Linked DNA regions of Homo sapiens: region 1 is linked to region 2. Evidence: fine-mapped expression QTL. A gene starts in region 2. The other region holds a variant in brackets. All regions are shown on one strand. Distances are between the middles of the regions. Region 1 overlaps EIF3I (eukaryotic translation initiation factor 3 subunit I). Region 2 holds the start of TXLNA (taxilin alpha).

What was found. PIP is the estimated chance that this variant, and not a neighbour inherited with it, causes the effect.
Region 1: its variant is the best candidate, but not a certain one, in a credible set for the expression of TXLNA in whole blood (TOPMed, PIP 0.86).

The regions. Positions count from the first base shown.
Region 1 is chr1:32,228,137-32,238,836 of GRCh38, reverse strand. It overlaps EIF3I (eukaryotic translation initiation factor 3 subunit I), which reads right to left. Exons shown (of 11, transcript NM_003757.4): 7 at 10,228-10,338; 8 at 10,021-10,110; 9 at 9,629-9,702; 10 at 7,818-7,910; 11 at 7,233-7,722. The coding sequence ends at 7,641. It also overlaps the pseudogene MTMR9LP. Among named protein-coding and RNA genes, the nearest start is that of EIF3I, 11 kb to the right of the region's middle. RefSeq lists an enhancer at 5,568-6,068. The variant A/G (reference allele first, on the strand shown) is at 5,211.
Region 2 is chr1:32,174,701-32,185,400 of GRCh38, reverse strand. TXLNA (taxilin alpha) reads right to left here and starts at 5,726. Exons shown (of 11, transcript NM_175852.4): 1 at 5,625-5,726; 2 at 4,887-5,087; 3 at 3,824-4,159; 4 at 785-876. The coding sequence starts at 5,055. KPNA6 (karyopherin subunit alpha 6) reads right to left here. Exons shown (of 14, transcript NM_012316.5): 14 at 8,838-10,700. RefSeq lists enhancers at 4,723-4,772, 4,783-4,942, 5,063-5,142, 5,030-5,788, 5,789-6,548 and silencers at 5,343-5,522, 5,663-5,852.

The DNA of each region.
Region 1 (10,700 bases), 53 kb before region 2:
CAGCTAATTTTTTTTTTTTTTTTGTATTTTATCTTATTTTATTTTATCATAATAATTATTTTTTAAGATGGAGTCTTGCTTTGTTTCCCAGGCTGGAGTGCAGTAGCGTGATCTTGGCTCTCTGCAACCTCCATTTCCTGGGTTCAAGTAACTCTCCCATCTCAGCCTCCCAAGTAGCTGGGACTACATGCACGTGCCACCATGCCTGGCTAATTTTCTTTTCTGTATTTTATTTTATTTTATTATTTTTTGAGACAGAGTCTCACTCTGTCGCCCAGGCTGGAGTGTGATGGTGCGATCTCAGCTCCCTGCAACCTCTGCCTCCCAGATGCAAGCAATTCTCATACCTCAGCCTCCCAAGTAGTTGGGACTACAGGAGCCTGCCACCATGCCCAGCTAATTTTTTTTTTGTATTTTATTTTATTATTATTATTTTTGAGATAGAATCTCTCTTTGTTGCCCAGTCTGGAGTGCAGTGGTGTGATCTTGGCTCACTGCAACCTCCATTCCCCGGGTTCAAGTGATTCTCTCGCCTCAGTCTCCTGAGTAGCTGGGACTACAGGCGCGTGCCACCAGGCCCGGCTAATTTTTGTATTTTTAGCAGAGATGGGGTTTTGCCATGTTGGCCAGGCTAGTCTGGAACTCCTCACCTCAAGTGGTCTGCCCATCTCAGCCTCCCAAAGTGTTGGGATTACAGGCATGAGCCACCACGCCCAGCCTTTTTTTTGTATTTTAGCAGAGATGGGGTTTCATCATGTCACTCAGGGTGGTCTTGAACTCCTGAGCTCGGGCAATCCACCTGCTTCAGTCTCCCAAAGTACTAGGATTACAAGCGTGAGCCACTGCATCCAGCCAAGTTTAATTTATACAGTAAGCACAACAATAACTAATAATAAAGTAGAACAATTACAATAATATGCTATAATAAAAGTTGTATAGGTCAGGTGCTGAGGTAAAAGATAGGTATTTTTGGAGATTTAGAAGATTGTGGCTGGGCACAGTGACTTATGCCTGTCATCTCAGCACTTTGGCAGGCTGAGGAGGGTGGATCCCTTGAGCCCAAGAGTTTGAGACCAGCCTGGGCAACATAGGGAGACCCTGTCTCTGTACAAAATACAAAAATTGGCTGGGTGTGGTGGCTCATGCTGGTAATCCCAGCATTTTGGGAGGCTGAGGCGGGAAGATCACCTGAGGTCAGGAGTTTGAGACCAGCCTGACCAACATGGAGAAACGCCGTCTCTACTAAAAATACAAAATTAGCCGGGCGTGATGGCACATGCCTTTAATCCCAGCTACTCAGGAGACTGAGGCAGGAGAATCGCTTGAACCTGAAAGGCAGAGGTTGCAGTGAGCTGAGATAGCACCATTGCACTCCAGCCTAGGCAACAAGAATGAAACTCCATCTCAAAAAAAAAAAAAAAAAAAAATTAGCTACATGTGGTGGTGCACACCTGTAGTCCCAGCTTCTCAAGAGGCTGAGGTGGATGGCTTGAGCCTGGGAGGCAGAGGTTGCAGTGAGCTGTAATTGTGCCACTGCACTCCAGCCTGGGTGAGAGCAAGATCCTGTCCCAAAATTAGCCAGGCATGGTGGTGTGCTCCTGTAGGCCCAGCTACTCAAGAGGCTGAGGTGGGAGATCACTGGAGCCCCGGGAGGTGGAGGCTGCAGTGAACTGTAATCACACCACTGCACTCGAGGCTGGCTGACAGAATGAGACCCTGTCTCAAAAAAAAAAACAAAAAAAAAATGGCCGGGTGCGGTGGCTCATGCCTGTAATCCTGGCACTTTGGGAGACCAAGGCGGGTGGATCACCTGAGGTCAGGAGTTCGAGACTAGCCTGGCTAACATGGTGAAACCCCACTTCTACTAAAAATACAAAAAATTAGCCAGGTGTGGTGCGGGCCTGTAATCCCAGCTATTTGGGAGGCTGAGGCAGGAGAATCGCTTGAAACTGGGAGGTGGAGGTTGCAGTGAGCCGAGATCACGCCATTACACTCCAGCTTGGGCAACAAGAGTGAAACTCCAAAAAAAAAAAGTTGTATGAGGCCGGGCATGGTAGCTCACGCCTGTAATCCCAGCACTTTGGGAGGCCGAGCTAGGTGGGTCACGAGGTCAGGAGATCGAGACCATCCTGGCTAACATGGTGAAACCCTGTCTCTACTAAAAATACAAAAAAAATTAGCCAGGTGTGGTGACGGGCTCCTGTAGTCCCAGCTACTCAGGAGGCTGAGGCAGGAGAATCGCTTGAACCCAGGAGGCAGAGGTTGCAGTGAGCTGAGATTGCGCCACTGCACTCCAGCCTGGGTGACCTAGAGTGAGACTCAATCTAAAAAAAATAAACAGTTGTATGAATGTGATCTCTTTCTTAAAATATCTTATTGTACTATACTCACCCTTCTTGTGATGATGTGAGATGCTTAAATGCCCATGTGATGAGATGTGGTGAATGACATAGGCCTTGTAATGCAGCCTTAGGCTCCTACTGACCTTGAACACAAGCCCACTGCAGTACTGCCACAGTCACTCTGATAACCAAGACAGCTACTAAGTGACTAATGGGCAGACAGTGTGTGCAGCATGGATATGCTGGACAAAGGGATGACTCCTATCCAGCGAGACAGAGCAGGGTGACTCAAGATTTCGTCACAACATTCAGAAGGGCTTACAATTTAAAACTTATGAATTGTTTATTTCTGGAATTTTCCATTTAATATTTTCAGGCCACAGTTGACCATGGGTAACTGAAACCTCAGAAAGTGAAACCATGGATGGGGTCAACTAATGTCCTTTGGTATGGTGGGAGTGTCGAGTATGAAATGGGAGGACAGATGAGGCTACAGATAAGCTTAGACTTTATCCTCAAGGCAGTGGGCAGCCACTGAAGGCTTTTAAACAGAGCTGAGAAGTCGCTGTTAGATTTTCTGGCAGGAGGTCACCAGTAACCTTGAACAGAGCAGTTTCTGGGAGGTAGGAGCAGATGCAGAATTCCAAGAGAACTGTGTTTTTCTTGTCAGACCGGGGCTCCCCAGGGAATGCTATGTTGCTCCCATCAGACTGGTGTACATCAAGGGTGTTGTGATACTTCCATCAAATTGGTGGTTTCCCAGGACATTGTGTGTTTCCCCAGAGGGCTATGTGACCCTTCCCCAGGTACTTTCTCAAAGGGTCTTGAGTCTCTCCCATCAGACTGAGGAATCCTCAAAGCTAAGAAACCATTTTAGGCTGGGCGCGGTGGCTCATGCCTGTAATCCCAGCACTTTGGGAGGCCGAGGTGGGCGGATCACAAGGTCAGGAGTCCGAGACCATTCTGGCCAACATGGTGAAACCTAACAATGCAAAAACTAGCTGGGTGTGGTGGCGGTCGCCTGTAGTCCCAGCTACTCTGGAGGCTGAGGCAGAAGAATCACTTAAACCCGGGAGGCGGAGGTTGCAGTGAGCTGAGATCGCACCACTGCACTCCAGCCTGGAGACAGAGCAAGATTCCGTCTCAAAAAAAAAAAAAAACCATTTCATGGACAGAACGAGACGCTGTCTCAAAGATTAGGAACTCCTCTGTGGGTCGTGTGTGCCGTGAGACTGGACTCCCTAAAGGGCTCTGTGTCCCTTTTATCAGATGGGCTCTTTACAGGATTCTGTGTCTCCCTCATTGGTCTTGAGCACTTGCTCCCTGGCTGTACTTGGCAAGGGCTTGAGCTGGAAAAGATGACCAGACTCCCACCGCCCAGAGGGCGTCCCCTGCAGGAGAGCTTCATGCGCCTGGTGGAGGCCTGTGGGGACTCGGAGCAAAGCATGGACAACTGGCTGAGTCGGCTGGACGGCTGCCGCTGACTGTAACATGTAAAGCAGGCACTGAGCACCACCTGCCTGGCAGTCCAGGGCATGGAGAGGTAAGGCCCCATTGACATAGAGAATAGGGTGAGATGGGCAGGGCTCTCAACCCCTGGATGCAAAACTGTGATTCAGTAAGCAAATATAGCCTAGAACTGGGTCCATTCTATTCCTGGCCTGGTACATGGGGCTGAAGGCACAGACAGCACCCTGCTTGTGACTTCACTGGCCCAACTCATCCTGGACCCCTTGAGCAAGACCATGGCTGGATTCCAGGAACTGGTGGAGTGGAAGTGGATCCAGGAAAGTAAGTGACCACCCAACCCCAGCCTTACCCTCCATCCAGAAACTTGCTTCCTCGTGCCCATTGCTCTGCCCCCTCCCCAGGCCAGCCACCCCTTCCAGCTGCGCTGTGCCCATTCAGCCTTCTCCCATGCCCACCCCAAGCATGAGGCACCCACCTTTCTCCTCTTCCTGGACTGCGTGTGGCAGCTGGGCTGCCGGTTCCCACTGTCATTGGAGTTTGGGGAAGGGCTACTGTTGGCGCTGTTTGGGCACGCCTATGCCTCCTCTTTTGGCACCTTCCTCTGCAACAGCGAAAAGGAGAGGTGAGCTGAGGGGGTGTTGAGGTAGCTTAGGGGCAGGCACAGGAAAGGGTTGGATACCTGTGCCATCAGTGCCTTACTTCCTTTTTTTTTTTTTTTTTGAGATGAAGTCTCGCTCTGTCACCTGTCGCCTGGTCTGGAGCGCAGTGGCACGATCTGGGCTCACTGCAACCTTTGCCTCCCTGGTTCAAGCTATTCTCCAGCCTCAGCCTCCCGAGTAGCTGGGATTACAGGAATGTGCCACCACGTCCGGCTAATTTTTATACTTTTAGTATAGATGGAGTTTCACCATATTGGCCAGTCTGATCTCAAACTCCTGACCTCAGGTGATCTGCCCACCTCGGCCTCCTAAAGTGCTGGGATTACAAGCGTGAGTCACTCCGCCCAGCCAGCACCTTACTTCCTTAGGAGCCATCTTTCCCGAATTCAAGTGGGTTTGTCTTTTAGGAAAACTGAGTGTTCTCCTTGCCCCACCTCCAAATCTCATACTTCCTCCTAACTTCTGCAAACCCAGAGATAAATAGGTCCAAGGCCAATCCTTTAGACAGACCTACTCTGTCCATAGCCAATTGCAAGTGAACCCCTACCTTGAAAACAAGGATTAAAGGGGAAATTTGCTGCAAAAATAATTTATAAGGCTCTCTACCACTTTGCAAGGTCGATTGTTTCAAAGCAATAGAACAGAGGTTGAAAGCAGAGTGGAATCATTTGGGCTCAAATTCCAGTTTCACCACTCACCTGCTGGGTGTTCATAGCAAACCCGTCTGAGTCTCAATCTC[A/G]TCGGTAGCATGAAGGGGATAAGAGCAGCCATAATCTGGCCGGGCGCGGTGGCTCACGCCTGTAATCCCAGCACTTTGGGAGCTGAGGCAGGCAGGTCACCTGAGATCAGGAGTTTGAGACCAGCCTGGCCAACATGGTAAAACCCCATCTCTACTAAAAATACAAAAAATTAGGCCTGGCACGGTGGCTCACACCTGTAATCCCAGCACTTTGGGAGGCTGAGGTGGGCAGATCACAAGGTCAGGAGATCGAGACCACCCTGGCTAACATGGTGAAACCCCCTGCCTACTAAAAATACAAAAAATTAGCCGGGCATGTTGGCACCCGCCTGTAGTCCCAGCTACTCAGGTGGCTGAGGCAGGAGAATCACTTGAACCTGGGAGTCAGAGGTTGCAGTAAGCCAAGATCCCACCACTGCACTCCAGCCTAGGTGTCAGAGCAAGACTCCATCTCAAAAAAATATAATTAGCCGGGCGTGTTGGCACATGCCTGTAATCCCAGCCACTTGGGAAGCTAAGGCATGAGAATTGCTTGCACCTGGGAAGCAGAGGTTGCAGTGAGCCGAGATCATGCCATTGCATTCCAGCCTAGGCAACAGGGTGGGACTCCATTAAATAAATAAATAAATAAATAAGTAAATAAAAGAAGTGGTATTTTTATTATTTGGTTGGCTTGTTGCATATGCTGCCTATCAGTCCCAGATGCCAGCTGTCTTATGAGATTGAGAGATGCGGGGAGGGAGGGTTCACCTTTCCAGGGTGAAGATCAGATTTAGTTATCTTCTGTTGCTCAGTCTTCCTCTATACCCCATCCTGCTTCACTAACCCCACTAGTCCTGGATCATCTCTATTTACCTCCCTCTCCCCCATCCTTCATCTTTAGTCTTTCTCCTAAAATTGTCTGAGTTTGGTCCTCCCTTGCCAGAAGGCCCTCCCCCCGTCTTCATCCACACTGGTCTCTTCCATCTGGACTCTCCGGCAGCCGCCTCACTGTTCTCTGCATCTTCATTGTTATCAATTTTCTTTCAAAAGCTCCTGGGTCCAGACCTATCAATATTCACAGTGGGCCCTTTCCCGCCTTCTTTCTTTGGCTCATGCCGTTCTCCCCATGTTGGCTGTTGCTTTGCACAGTGGGTATGCTAGGTCTGTTGAGACTCAGCTCAAACATCACATTCTTAATTAGCCTTCTCTGACATTGAGGCAAAACTAAATTGGTTTCTCCCTTTAAATAGAACTCCTTAAGAAGTAGGACTTTGTCTTGTTCCCCTTTTATTCTAGTGCCTAGTACAAGATCTGACTAGCAATAATGTTTGCAAGAAAAAGGAGAAAAGTAAAGGTTATCACTGCTCCAAAGTGGCTGTCACCCTACTAACCAGGGCTGCCCACCCAGACTCCCAGAGGGCATACCTGGGGCTGGAAACTCACTCCCTGCCTTTCTGCAGATGCCGTGTGAAGGGAGGACTCAGATGCACTCCCTGTGGTCTGGGCTCAACCAGCCAAAAGAGCAACAAAGACTCCAGAACCCACTCTACCTCCTCAATCCCTTGGCCATCTGTGGAGCCCCAGAGCCTGCGGCTGTGGCAAGGTGAGCTCCACACCTTCTCCCCTGGGTATTACCCCTCTGCTCAGCGTCCTGACCTGTCTTCCTCCTCCTCAGGCCTGTTTCTGCGCTGGACCTGCTCACCTGAGCCTGCAGAAGCTGCATGGGGGAAGAGTGTGGCAAATAGTGACAGGAAGGGAGAAGACAGAAGCCTCTCAGCCAACTGCTTCAGCCGAGCCCCTATTCTAAGCACTGGCTCCTTGGATAGCAGCTGAGATGTTCCTGAAACCTCTGCAGGCCCCTTAGGACCTTTACACCTTGGATGAGGGTGCCTGCAACCCAGGTTAGCCAAAAGTACTGAGGGTCTTAAGTTTGAAGTGTCCAAAGTATAGGGAGGTCTCAATAATAAAAGTCTCCATGATCAGCATCAGCTTGCTGGGGTGTCAGTGAAAAGGAAAAATGATGAAACAGACACCACAAAATATCTGACCAGAAGCCATTTATTACCAAACCAATTTATTTCTTAGAGTTCAAAACCTTCTGTGAGAATCTTCTCTGGCCTGGTTGGAGATCCACCTTCTTCTTTTTTTTTTTTGAGACGGAGTTTTGCTCTTGTGGCTCAGGATGGAGTGCAATGACGTGATCTCAGCTCACTGCAACCTCTGCCTCCTGGGTTCAAGTGATTCTCCTGCCTCAGCCTCCTGAGTAGCTGGGACTATAGGCGTGTGCCACCATGCCTGGCTAATTTTTGTATTTTTAGTAGAGACGAGGTTTCTCCATGTTGGTCAGGCTGGTCTTAAACTCCTGACCTCAGGTGATCCGCCTGCCTTAAAAAAAAAGTGGTGGGATTACAGGCATGAGCCACCACGCCCGGCAGGAGATCCAGCTTCTTAAGCCTCAAACTCAAATTCGAAGTACTGTGGGTCGAAGTAATGGATACGGACGTAACCATCTTCGCCGCCGCTGCTGTAGCTGGAAAAAGATAGCCAGGCACCAGTCAGGTGCTTACTCTGGGAAAGGCAGAGACCCAACCCAGGCTTAGGTCAGCTGCTTCACTGGTACCCTACCTCTTGCCATCAGGATGGAAGGCAACACTGTTGATAGGTCCAAAGTGACCCTTGACTCTTCCAAACTCTTCTTCAAAGGCCAAATGGAAGAACCTGGAGGAAAAGGGACACAATTAATTCACTTTCTATCTTCTTCCAAAACACTTTGGAGGTGGCACTCCCCAAATGCAAATTGTTATTATTATTTATTTATTTTGAGATGGAGTCTTACTCTGTCACCCAGGGTGGAGTACAGTGGCGCAATCTCGGTTCACTGGAACCTCCCCCTCCTGGGTTCAAGCAATTCTCCTGCCTCAGCCTCCTGAGTGGTTGGGATTACAGATGCCTGGCTAATTTTTGTATTTTTAGTAGAGATGGGGTTTCACCATGTTGGCCAGGCTGGTTACGAACTCCTGGCCTCAAGCCGCCTTCCTTAGCCTCCCAATGTGCTGGGATTACAGGCATGAGCCACCACACCTGGCCTCAAATGCAAATTGTATCACAAAAAATAAAGCAGAAGCCGAGGCGCAGTGGCTCACGCCTGTAATCCCAACACTTTGGGAGGCCGAGGCGGGTGGATCACTTGAGGCCAGGAGTTTGAGACCAGCCTGGCCAACATCTCTACTAAAAATACAAAAAGCAGCCAGGGACGGTGGCCATGTACCTGTAATCCCAGCTACTCAGAAGCTGAGGTAGAAGGATCGCTTGAGCCCAGGAGGTTGCGGTGAGCAGAGATGGTGCCACTGCACTCCAGCCTGGGCAACAGAGTGAGACCCTGTCTCAAAAAATAATAATAATAAAGCAGAAAAATTGAGATAAGAAGTGAATGTGAACAAAATAAGATGGAAATTGGTGGCTGCGTGCCATGGTTCACGCCTGTAATCCCAGCACTTTGGGAGGCTGAGGACAGAGGATTGCTTGAGCCCAGGAGTTCGAGGCCAGCCTGGGCAACATAGTGAGACCCTGTCTCTTACTTTTTTAACTTTTTTATTATATGGGGAAGACTGGACCCAGATGTCTGCCTGAATACATAACTAATACTTATAGAGTGCCTACTATGTGCTGGGCAGTGCTTAAAGAGCTTAATAAATATTAACTGAATAATTTAATCTGCATAATTTTATGTTAAGTATATTGTCATTGTCTCATTATACAGTAGAGGAAATTTAGACATAGAGAAATATAATGAAGGCTGGGCACAGTGGCTCATGCCTGTAATCCCAGCACTCTGGAAGGCCAAGGTGGGCGGATTACTTAAGGCCAGGAGTTCAAGACCAGCCTGGCAAACATGGTGAAATCCTGTCTCTACTAAAAATACAAAAATTAGCCAGGCGTGGTCATGGGTGCCTGTAATCCCAGCCACCCAGGAGGCAGAGGCAGGATAATTGCTTGAACCCGGGAAGCAGAGGTTGCAGTGAGCAGAGATCGCGCCATTGCACTCCAGCCTGGGTGACAGAGCAAGACTCCGTGTCAAAAAAAAAAAAAAAAAAAAAGGCTGGGCACGGTGGCTCATGCCTGTAATCCCAGCACTTTGGGAGGCTGAGGCGGGCGTATCACGAGGTCAGGAGATCGAGACCATCCTTGCTAACACGGTGAAACCCCGTCTCTACTAAAAATACAAAAAGAAAATTAGCCAGGCATGGTGGTGGGCGCCTGGGCCGCTGAGGCAGGAGAATGGCGTCAACCCGGGAGGCAGAGCTTGCAGTGAGCAGAGATCACGCCACTGCGCTCCAGCCTAGGCGACAGAGCGAGACTCCATCTCAAAAACAAAAACAAACAAAAAAGGTACACCACATGAGATTTTAATTTGGAAGAGCTCTCTTCTTCTTTACCTGGCCTCAAACTTGCCAATCCTGGTGGAGGTTGTGGTTACATCCATGGCTTCCTGACCACCGCCCAGGACCACCTGAATGGAAGAAGAAACTCTAGATGGGACCAATGGACACCAAGTCCATTTTGTGTTTTTCTGCTGCCATATACATTTTTAACATCTCACACGGCTCAATGGGAGGATACCAAAGGTAGGGGATGATCAGACACTTCTGCCACCTCCTGCTGGCTGCCCTGGGGCTATTCAATCCTTCCAGCTTTGTCACTCCTCTGGGCATCTCCTCTCTGCCTGACATCATTTCCCCCACAATGTTGTAGCCCAACTTCTGGACAAGCATCTAGAACTTGGAAGCTTCCTGAGGCTTCAGCAGGAAGGCAGGTGGGGTTCTCTTACATGGTCATAGTTGGGGGAGAGGGCAGCTGAGTTGACAGGACGTTCTGTCCGGAAAGTCTTCTGATGTTCAAGAGTTGTGGAGTCAAAAAGCTGGAGAGAGAAGGCAGGGGGGAAATCTGTAAAGAGCTTTCCTGGGGGAAGTCGGGCAGGGTGAGCTGTGCAGCCGGAGGGAGGGAGCAGCCCTGCCAGACCGCTGCCCAGGCTCACCTTGGCTGTGTTGTCCTTGGACGCGGTCACAAACATGGTCATGTCCCTGGATAACTGGATGTCGTTGATCTGCCGGGAGTGCTCCTTAACATTCACCAACACCTCTCCAGACTAGGGAAGGAAGAAGAGTGACACTGAATGGGCCCAATCCCTACTAATCTCAGCTCCCCAGAAACCCAAGCACCCAAATGAAAGCTGAGACAGCATGGACTTTGTGTTTTCCTCACCCCCTCTATCCTATCAGTCACCCCTAAATATCCCTTGACTCTGTCCAGTAATGTACATCCTATGCCTATTGGCTAGTTCAGGTTCACTCTCCAAACATAAACTGCAAAAGCTGTTGGAAGGAAAATCTGGCCATTGATAACCCTTTAAAGATTCCCTACTGCCTGGAGGAAAGTCAAAACTCTTTACCTCCTCACACTGAAGGACGTTTAAAATCTATTCCCCGTCCTCTGTCCCCAAGACCACAC
Region 2 (10,700 bases):
TAAATAAATAAATACATACATACATACATACATACATACATACACAGGCTGTGACCATCAATGGATAAATCTGTTAGTTCAAATTCTGACAAGGGACCTGATGATGGAAGAATCTGGCTGCCCCACCCCCAACCCACTGAACAATGTTACAACAAAGTGGGAAGAGCATGCTTTGCATTTATTGTGATGGAACATGAAGTACTTATGAAGAATTCTTGTCAAAAAGTTGAAGCTGAATTGGATCAAGCTTTAGAGCTAACTTCTACTTCACTTACATGTACCAGGAGGTAAAGAAGTAAAATGATACCACAGAGATGACAAAGCTAGAAGGGGGCATCCTACAAGACAGCTAGTCTAGTTTCTGTTAAAAGTCAATGTCATGGGGAATATGAGGAGGCAGTGACAAGAAGACTGCTCTGGAGTAAAAGGAAAAAGTATCAAGTGACTAGTGTTAGTTTTATTAACTGTGATAATGGCTCTATGCATCTGTATTTGAGGAAGAAGCATCAAGATCACAAGGTGTCTTGGACTCAGGCCAGGAACAAGGGCTCTACCACCTTGGAATCATTCTTTGAGAAATTTCTTTCAAGGAATATGCAGTTTCTCCTCTTGCTGCACAGCCCTGAAGAGGCTGGCTGGAAGTGATTCCCCATTTAACAGATAGTTCAGAGAAAAGCTGAACAGGAATTAAGCCACCTACTTGACTCTGCACCCCCAACCTTACACCAGGTGGCATGCTGATTTTCCCAACGCAGGGAAGGTGCCCGCGGAGGGGGGAACTGACCAGTTCAGCATACTTCTTGCACAGAGCAGCCAGCTTCTCCTCTGGGGTACTCAGAGTATTCAATGTCTGCATCAGCAACGTGATCTCCTTCCCTGAAAAGCACAGGAGCAAAGACATGCACCCTCTTCTCCAGGTGTCCCCTCCAGGCCTGGGCTCACACTCATGAGTGCTGAAGACAGCCCTCCCCATCATACTTTATATTTTGCTTGTTGATTAGCTGCCTTCCTTGCCATAAGGACCAACTCAATCCTGCCCTCACTATAGCCCCAGTACTGTCCATAGTACCATCACAGAGGATATGCTCAACAAATGCTTATCAAATGAACGACTGTACCCTAGTGAAATCTCCTTAGTAGGCACCATTGGCAGGAGAAAAAAACTGCCTGCTCTACCAATAGAAGAAAGGTGTCCCACTTATGAATTCAGGGCTACTGTTTCATACTGTTTCAATGCAAGGAAGGCCCACCCTCCTGATAGAGGTAGGATCCAAAAAGGAATAGGTATCTTAGCCTCCTTGAGAAATACTAAACTCTTGTCAACAGAGTAGCCAAACAGTGAACTTTAAAATGAAGATACTTTCGGCCAGGCAAGGTGGCTCATGCCTGTAATCCCAGCACTTTGGGAGGCCGAGGCAGGCGGATCACGAGGTCAAGAGATCGAGACCATCCTAACATGGTGAAACCCCATCTCTACTAAAGACATACACAAAAAAATTAGCTTGGTGTGGTGGCACGCGCCTGTAGTCCCAGTTACTCCGGAGGCTGAGGTAGGAGAATCGCTTGAACCCAGGAGGCGGAGGTTGCAGTGAGCCCAGATCGCGCCACTGCACTCCAGCTTGGTGACAGAGCGAGACTCTGTCTAAAAAAATTAATTAATTAAAAAAAAAAGGCAGGGTACAGTGGCTTACGCCTGTAATCCCAGCACTTTGGGAGGCTGAGGCGGGCGGATCACGAGGTCAGGAGATCAAAACCATCCTGGCTAACACAGTGAAACCCCGTCTCTACTAAAAAAAATACAAAAAAATTAGCCGGGCATGGTAGCAGGAGCCTGTAGTCCCAGCTACTCGGGAGGCTGAGGCAGGAGAATGGCGTGAACCCAGGAGGTGGAGCTTGCAGTGAGCCGAGATCGCGCCACTGCACTCCAACCTAGGGACAGAGCGAGGCTCCATCTCAAAAAAAAAAAAAAAAAAAAAAGGCAGGGTACGGTGGCCCACGCCTGTAATCCCAGCACTTTGGGAGGCCCAGGTGGGCGGATCATGAGGTCAGGAGATCGAGACTATCCTGGCTAACACAGTGAAACCCTGTCACTACTAAAAAAATACAAAAATTAGCCGGGCATGGTGGCAGGCGCCTGTAGTCCCAGCTACTCGGGAGGCTGAGGCAGGAGAATGGTGTGAACCCGGGAGGCGGAGCTTGCAGGGAGCTGAGATCGCGCCAGTGCACTCCAGCTTGGGTGACAGAGCAAGACTCCATCTCAGTTGGGGGTGGGGGGTGAAGAAGATGATACTTTCCATGTATGTGACGTTAAGATTTTTTCCTTTTTCTTTTTTTGAGATGGAGTCTCACCCTGTCACCCAGGCTGGAGTGCAATGGCATGATCTCAGCTCACTGAAAACTCTGCCTCACGGGTTCAAGTGATTCTCCTGCCTCAGCCTCCCGAGTATCTGGGATTATAGGCACGTGCCACCACGCCCGGCTGATTTTTTGTATCTTTAGTAGAACTGGGGTTTCACCATGTTGGCCAGGCTGGTCTCGAACTCCTGACCTCATAATCTGCCTGCCTTGGCCTCCCAAAGTGCTGGAGTTACAGGTGTGAGCCACTCTGCCTAGTCGTCCCTAAGATTTTTTAAAGTTCCTCTTTAAAGTAAGAGGATACATAAGGGGAAAAGGGAATAGGAATAAAACATGGATATAATGACACTCGACTTAGATTCTAGATTCTTTTTTTTTTTTTTTGAGACAGAGTTTCACTCTTGTCACCCAGGCTGGATGTAGTGGCACAATCTCAGTTCACTGCAACCTCTGCCTCCCGGGTTCAAGCCATTCTCCTGCCTCAGCCTCCCAAGTAGCTGGGATTACAGGCGTGTGCCAGCATGTCCAGCTAATTTTTGTATTTTTAGTAGAGACGGGATTTCATCATGTTGGCCAGGCTGTTCTCGAACTCCTGACCCTCAGGTGATCCACCCGCCTCGGCCTCCCAAAGTGCTGCAATTACAGGCGTGAGCCACCACACCCGGCCTAGACTCTTAAACATACATACCCTGCTGTAAAATGACTGTCACTGCCTATTCCCCATTGCCTGTGACTGAGTCAGGGAGCCTTCCCTCTGCCTCCCCAGAAGGGCCCAAGAGATCAGCATGGAGACTGCAATTCGCAGGCATGTGTGCCAAATCCAACCCACGGATGGGTTTTGTTTGGCTCTTACCATTTTAGCTGCTAACTATGAAAAAATCTAGAGTTCTCACATAACTCTAGATTTCTGGCTTTTCTTTATTTAAAAAAAAAAAAAAAAAAAAAAAGCCTGACTGCACCCAGCCTGTAGTTTTGCCTGCTCTCAGTTGGCTAGCTGAGAGCAACTAATCAGGAAGCAGTAAAGCCTCCATCTTCAGGTGGCCCCATGGCCAGCCCAGCTTATGCAGATATTTGGGTTTTCAACTCTGGCCTAGTCTAATTTTCTTACTGTAAAGAGAAATATAAACTAAGACCCAGAGAGGAGAAGGGACACACCCAAGGTCACACAGCAGGTAGTACTGGCTGGCACAGGAGCCTACCCTAGCCTCCCGTCTCCATTTTCTCAAAGAGAGAACAGGTCCCATGCCAAGCTCCAGTTGCTCCAAAACCCAGAAGGCTTTGTGCTGGTAACTCCTGCATCTCTCTATGCCGTGGCCCCCACATCCCTGGCTTTGATTAGACTAGAGTGACTTGCTGCTCTGAGAAGTACCGTTTTCCTTTGAATCCTGGCAGAACAGACTGGCCCAGAGAACGTCAAGTCCAAACTCCCTCTCCTCACCAGCTTCACAAAGAGCCGCCCTCTGCTCACCCAAACCCTTGGCTTTTTTCTTCTCCTGTGGCCTTCGATGGTCTCGGTCTCCGACCTCGTCACTCTGCCGGATCTCTTCTGTGTTTGGATCCCCCTTGGAGGGTTCCTTCTCTCCATTGACTACTGGAGTTGGTTCAGGCTCCCCATTCCTTGCCACATAGGTCCGGGACTTCTCTGCATCTTCGGGTTCAGCCGGCTCACCCTGTGCCCCATCCTCGCCGGGGCCCCCCTGGTTATTGTCCACACAGTATGTGCTCAGTATGTCTTCCAGTTGGCGGCTCAGCTCCTCAGAGACATCACGAAGGGCCCCAGACTGAGCCGTTCTGGCTTGAGCCCCTACAGCAGGAGAGGATGAGGGGTAGAGTGAGAAAGAAGACGATTATACCACTGGTTGGGATTTTTCAGGCCCAGCCAAACTCATCAGTTTGAGTTAAATGTTGCCTAACTTTTTTTTTTATGGAAACTGAGAAGCAAGAATGGAGTATCATTCAGCAAATCTAGTTCCTGTCAGAATTTAGATTCGAAACATCTTTTAAATCAAGAAATTATAGTAATCGTTGCCTAACTTCTTTAAGTCTGTTTACTTGTAAAATGACACAACTATTTCTCACTACCACCCGAACATATTTGTTAGATCATAAAAGTATGTAAAGCATCAGCACACAGGGATGGCACGGAGCAACTTCTAGTCCATCTCCTTCCCCCCCACAAAACCATTTCTTGCCATTCAGATCATTCTAGAAATGCCTCAAACAGGAAGGGCAGTTAGCTGCTGGTGGCTGAGGTGTTTCTAACGGGACCTGGATTTCCTGACTGGGTGCCTCGTTTGGCTGCCACCTGACTTAATCCCGTCGGAGCTTCTCTCCAGAACTCTGTTCCTGTGCTTAGAGGGGGCAGCTCCGCCAACTCGCCAGAGCGCAGGGGGGACCGCGGCCCCCAGCACTGTCCTCTCATTCTACATCTCCTCCTCCCGGACAACCTGGCCTCGGCCTGTAAGTCCAGAAGCGAGGCCGACCCCACAGCTCCTCCCCCTGCCCGCTGGCAACGCAGAGCTGGCACACACCCTCCGGCTTCCGAGGAGCCTGGCTGCTGCCGGGACCTTCTGCTTCTACTGCAGGAGCCGCCTGGCTGGGCCGCTCCTGGGCTCCCTCGGGTCCTGCTTCCGGTTGTCCTGGGCTGCTTTTTGGATTGGATTGTTTGGCAGCCCCGTTCTTTTTGTCTTGGTTCTTCATTGTGATGAGCGATGCTGGGTCAGGAGAAGATCCTTTAGAAACAAACACAGTTGCTATTTTCCAGACTTCGAAATTCTTCGCAGCCTGGATCAGAAATCCCCACAGCAGGCGCACAAAGCTTCTTAAAATAAACGGACCGGCAGGCCCGGGCGGAGGGCGCCAACGGCTCTCTGGTCTTGGCGGGTCAGGAGAGCCCGACGTGCCGGGGCAGGCTTTCGGGGCGCAGCTCCCACAGCGGGTGAGGGAAGAGGCCTCTTCTCCCTGGAGCCACTTCCCGGCACAACCGGCCCCCTCGCGGCAGGCCGGGCGCGGGATTGGCTCAGGGCCGGAGACTGACGTGGCGGGACTCCCGGCACCGCCCCCGCCCCTCAGGCCCCACGTGCGCCCCCCGCGCGCGCAGCCACCCACGCCCCGCGCGCCCTCAAGCCGCGAGGCACGCCCGCGCATGCGCATATCCCCAGACAGCCCCCGGCCCACGCGGGGAGTTGGCGTGATTTCCCCACAGGCCGAGAACATCCCGGCCCGCACACTCTCAAATAGTCTCGCCCACCGGCCGCCGCTGCACGTACCTCACCGCCGACGTCCGATGGCTTCCCCACCTCTGGCCTCGCACCGGAAACCCCGAGTAACTGCTGCCGGCCAGCCGCCTGCTCCCGCCTCAGCCAATCAATAGCCGGCGCCGGCGCGGAGCTTGCTGGGAAGGACGAAGCGAGGGCGGCCTCGGAGGCGGGCGCCCCGGCAGGGCGGGGCAGGGAAAAGACTACGCGTCCCTCTTTACGCAGGGGCTAGCCGCAGATCCCAAGGTGCATAAGGGACTGTAGTCCTGGGAGTCCAAAAGGAGCCCGTCATTCTGCACGAGTGCCCATGTCAACCTTGTTTCTATCTCGCAGAAGCTATGCTTCAACTCCCAAAGCCTTGCGCCTGGCTGTTGTTTCCTGCAGGCCTCCATCAAACCTTCCTCCCTGGCCGTGAACAAATGTGACTCCATCCGGGAACTCCGAGGACTCGGGAAGAGGGATAGAGTCCTGGGCTGAGACTCAGGAGACCCATACTCCAGTCCCAACTTCATCACGGATTTGCTGTGTGGCTGGACGTTCTGTTCTCTCTCTGGGCCTCAATGTCCTTCTTCCAAAGGAGGCTTTTAATAACAATAGCAGTTCCTTGAACGCTTACTGTGTGCTTTCCCGCTATCTAATAGCTTGGTTCTCATAACCACTCATAGAAATAACTACTATCTGTTATCCCCATTTTACGGAAAAGGACAGTAAGAGAAAGGTTAGGTAACTTATCCAAGGTCATATCGATAGTGAGTGGTTAAAACAGGGATTCAAAACTGGTAAGTCTGAGACCAGCACCCAGGTAATTACCTGGTCTTTCACCCAGAAGAAACACTACCACAGCAGGTTTCCCTGAGGCAGTCAAGGTAACTTGTGAAAGTAGGTCATATTTTCCCCTCTCCATTACCATTTTGGCAGTCAGTTCCTCAGAAAGGTGCTGAGTTAGGCTTCAGGCATATTCATGAGCCTTTTCTCTACCCCACACTCTACAAAGTCTCACTGGGGTTAAAGTAGAAAAAACCCCCACAGTTCCCTACACATGAGATCACAATTCTGTATCCCCATTGCTTCTGGATAATGAAATCAAACCCAACAATCCTTGTGCCTGGAATTTGAAGCCTAAGAGATTTGACTTTTGCCAAACCCAAAATTTTTTGAGGCCCAGTTCAAAGGTCACTTCAGAGCCTTCCCAGTGCTCTGCAAACCGTACTTGCTCCCTAGGTCTGCAGAGTTGTTACAGCATTAGCAGTGAGGTGTTGAAATTACTATTTACTTATAAGTCAGTTAATTTTGCAAGAACTGTTGGCTAAATAGTCTAGTCCCAGAGCCTCGCATCAGGCTGTGGGTAGAGAAGATTGTAAACTGTTGTGCTAATTGAGCGTTGGTTTAGGGCTGTTAGGATGTTAAATATTTCCCCCAAAGGCTCAGTGAAAGACTTCAGAGCCGTGCATGTTGGATTTCAGATTTTCAGATTGGGGAAGCTCAACCGGTAAAATTTGAGAAAATCCCAAATTGGAAACACTTCTGGTCCCAAGCATGTTGGATAAGAGATATTCAATTTTTAGTATAATGATGGAACTGAGGCTCAGAAAGGTTGGAATCTAGATGTCCTGAAACCAAGGCCCTGATTATTTCTAGAAAAGCATTCTGGAAATCTCTTGAGAAGGCACCATATAAATCAGGCCTTGATAGATTTCCATATAACAAGGGTGTTCTAGGTGAGATAAAGAACATAAAAATGTATGCATGGGGTGAGGGATAGAGGATGTAGTAGAAGGGTCAACAATAGCCTAGAGGGGCCAGTTGGGTAATGAGAACAGGCAAGAATAATTGACAGAAACATAGGTTAACAAGTTACTTTCTCCTTTGCTATAAACAATATATAGCAACAATATTAGCACCTGCCAGAGTGAGGGAGAGGTGGTGATTGCAGTAAAATACAGCAGCTCTTGCACATTGTTAGCAAGCAGAAACTCAGGCCGGGTAGGGCCAGATTGTATTTTTGTTTTTTAGACAGGTTTTACTCAGCTGCTGGGGCTGGAGTGCAGTGATCATAATAGCTCACTGCAGACTCGACCACCTGGACTCAAGTGATCCCCTTGCCCCAGCCTCCCAAGTAGCTAGGATTACAGGTATGTGCCACCACAGCCAGCTAACTTTTAAATTTTTTTGTAGAGACAGATCTCACTTTGCTGCCCAGGCTGGTCTTGAACTCCTGGCCTCAAGTGATCCTCCTACCTTGGCCTCCCAAAGGGTTGGGATTACAGGCATGAGCCACAGTGCTTGGCCTCTTTTTAAAAATGGAGACTTCAGGACAGTCTTTTTCAAGACAGACATTTGATTTAAAAAAAAAATGTTGGCAACTAATTCAAACTTAAACACGCTCTGCCAAGCAAAACCTTCCTGTGGGTTCAATCAACTTTCTGGCTGCTTGTCTGTAATCTCTGCTTTAGGAATTATCTAAACTGAAGGGAGGAGTCTGTGAACTATTTGATCTTAAGAGGTTCAGGCTGGGCACGATGGCTCATGCCTGTAATCCCAGCACTTTGGGAGGCGGAGGCAGGCGGATCACCTGAGGTCAAGAGTTCAAGACCAGCCTGGCCAACGTGAAACCCCGTCTCTACTAAAAATACAAAAATTAGCTGGGCGTGGTGGCGGGCACCTGTAATCCCAGCTATTTGGGAGGCTGAGGCAGGAGAATCGCTTGAACCCAGGAGGCAGAGGTTGCAGTGAACCGAGATCACGCCATTGTACTCCAGCCTGGATGCCAAGAATAAAAAACTCCGTTTCAAAAAAAAAAAAAAGGTTCAAAGGGCTGTAGAGTGGTGCTGATGAAACTAAGTCAAAATCATTTAGAGAAACTCTAGAAAATGCAAACTAAACTACAGTGACAGCCACAGATCAGTGGTTGCTGGAGGTGGGGCAGAAAGGAGGGATTCTCAAGCGGGAAGCTTACGGCTTATGAAGGTCATAGATATATTCACTATCTTGTGGTTGTTTTATGGGTGCATATGTGTTTCAATTTATCAACGTGTATATACTTTAAATATGTACAGTTTATTGTATGTCAATTATATTTCAATAAAGTCGATGAAAAAAACTTTAGAGCAGGTGCAGGTTGGTACAACTCTTATTTCCACTGTTAAGCTACAAATTTAAACACCTCCTCATTCTCTTCCCCCAAATCCAGTCTAGGGTCACTCCAAGCCAAAGAAGACAATTTAGAACTTTGCAACAGGTTTTTATTTTTGCTTTATATCTATTACAGTGTTTGAAACCTAAAGAAATACATTTTCTCTTCAAATTTGGATGTGTATATAAATAACATTTGTCTGGACTCAGCACACTCAATGCCATGTTTTCTTCGCCTATGTCTGCTCTGAAATCAAGCTGTGTCTGTCTACCCAGGGGCCCTGAGAACATGGAAAATAGAGTTTATTGTTATTAGAAAAATAAAAGCAAATGAATTTGCAAAGAAAAACCAGTGAGAAGGATTAGATTCATCTTCCAAGGGTCCATAGCTGGTAACCCAAGCCATTCTCGGGGGATATCCAGTCTCTTGAGTGGCTGGGACTCCATTACCCACTTTCCTTCTTTAATAGGTCAAAGGCAATTCCCACAAAAGCTGGCTAAAAAAGCCGACACCCAACTCCAGAGTCTGAGGGTTCATGAAGATGTGGACTTTTTTTTTTGAGACAAGAGCCTCACCCTGTCGCCCAGGCTGGCACAATCTTGGCTCACTGCAACCTCTGCCTCCTAGGTTCAAGAGATTCTCCTGCCTCAGCCTCCCACGTAGCTGAGATCACAGGTGCCCACCACCACACCTGGCTTATTTTTTTTATTTTTTTATTTTTGTAGGGACGGGGTTTTACTATGTTGGTCAGGCTGGTTTTGAACCCCTAACCTCAAGTGATCTGCCCGCCTCAGCCTCCCAAAGTGCTAGGATTACAGGCATGAGCCACCGCGCCCAGCTGAAGATGTGGATTTTTTTTTTTTTTTTTTTTTTGAGATGGAGTCTCGCACTGTCACCCAAGCTGGAGTGCAGTGGCATGATCTTGGCTCACTGCAACCTCCGCCTCCTGGGTTCAAGTGATTCTCCTGTCTCAGCCTCCCAAGTAGCTGGGATTACAGGCGCCTGCCACCACGCCCAGCTAATTTTTTGTATTTTTATTAGAGATGGGGTTTCACTATGTTGCCAGGCTGGTCTCAAACTCCTGACCTCGTGATCCACCCGCCTCGGCCTCCCAAAGTGCTGGGATTACAGGCATGTGCCACCGCGCCTGGCCAGATGTGGACTCTTTAAAGACATGCTCTGAGTCAGAGGTTCCCAGCCAGTGTTAGGATCTCTGAGAGCTTACTTCCTTCAATGCCCCCCAGGCCATGGCGTATATAATAGTTACAGGAGAACAGGGCTGGCATTCAGCAACAGGGTTCAGGTACGAGCTAATGTGGACATCAGAAGTCAGCCTGGCCCAGAGGCAGCTAGGCAGGCCACTAAGATACACTACATAAACCTTTTCCCATGGTGTTCTGGGCCTAACATGTAATACTGCCTCTTCTAACTCTCACAGCCTGCTTAGGTTCTGCACATAGCCCAGACCTGAAGCAAAGCGCCCTTGCAGAGAAAAAAATAACAGCTTTAATTCACAGATTTGGTTGGTCTTGACCTCAAGTTCTTCCTTTGCCACGGTCTAAATCAGGGTGTGGGGCTAGAGGACAGATAATGAGAGACTGAATCATTTATGAAGGCCTTGGCCAAAGAGCAGCTAGTGCCCACTACATGGATCCCAGCAGGGCCAAATTCTCAACTTGTTGGCTTAACAAAAGAATGAAAAAGCTCAAACAGAAAACATACTGGACAAGGTTGGTCCAGAACATGCAATCCTAAATGGCTATGGAATAAATTTATTCTGAGCAATATCTCAGTCTCACACTCACTAAATTCTAGGGTAGTTCTATTGAAGATGTTTACCATGGTTTAGCGCACTGAGCCCTGCACCCTTCCCCAGGCTGCCAGGGAAGCAGAGAGGTACAAACATTCCTAATGCCCCAGTCAGCCTGTTCTCCCTATGGGGTCCCTGGATTACC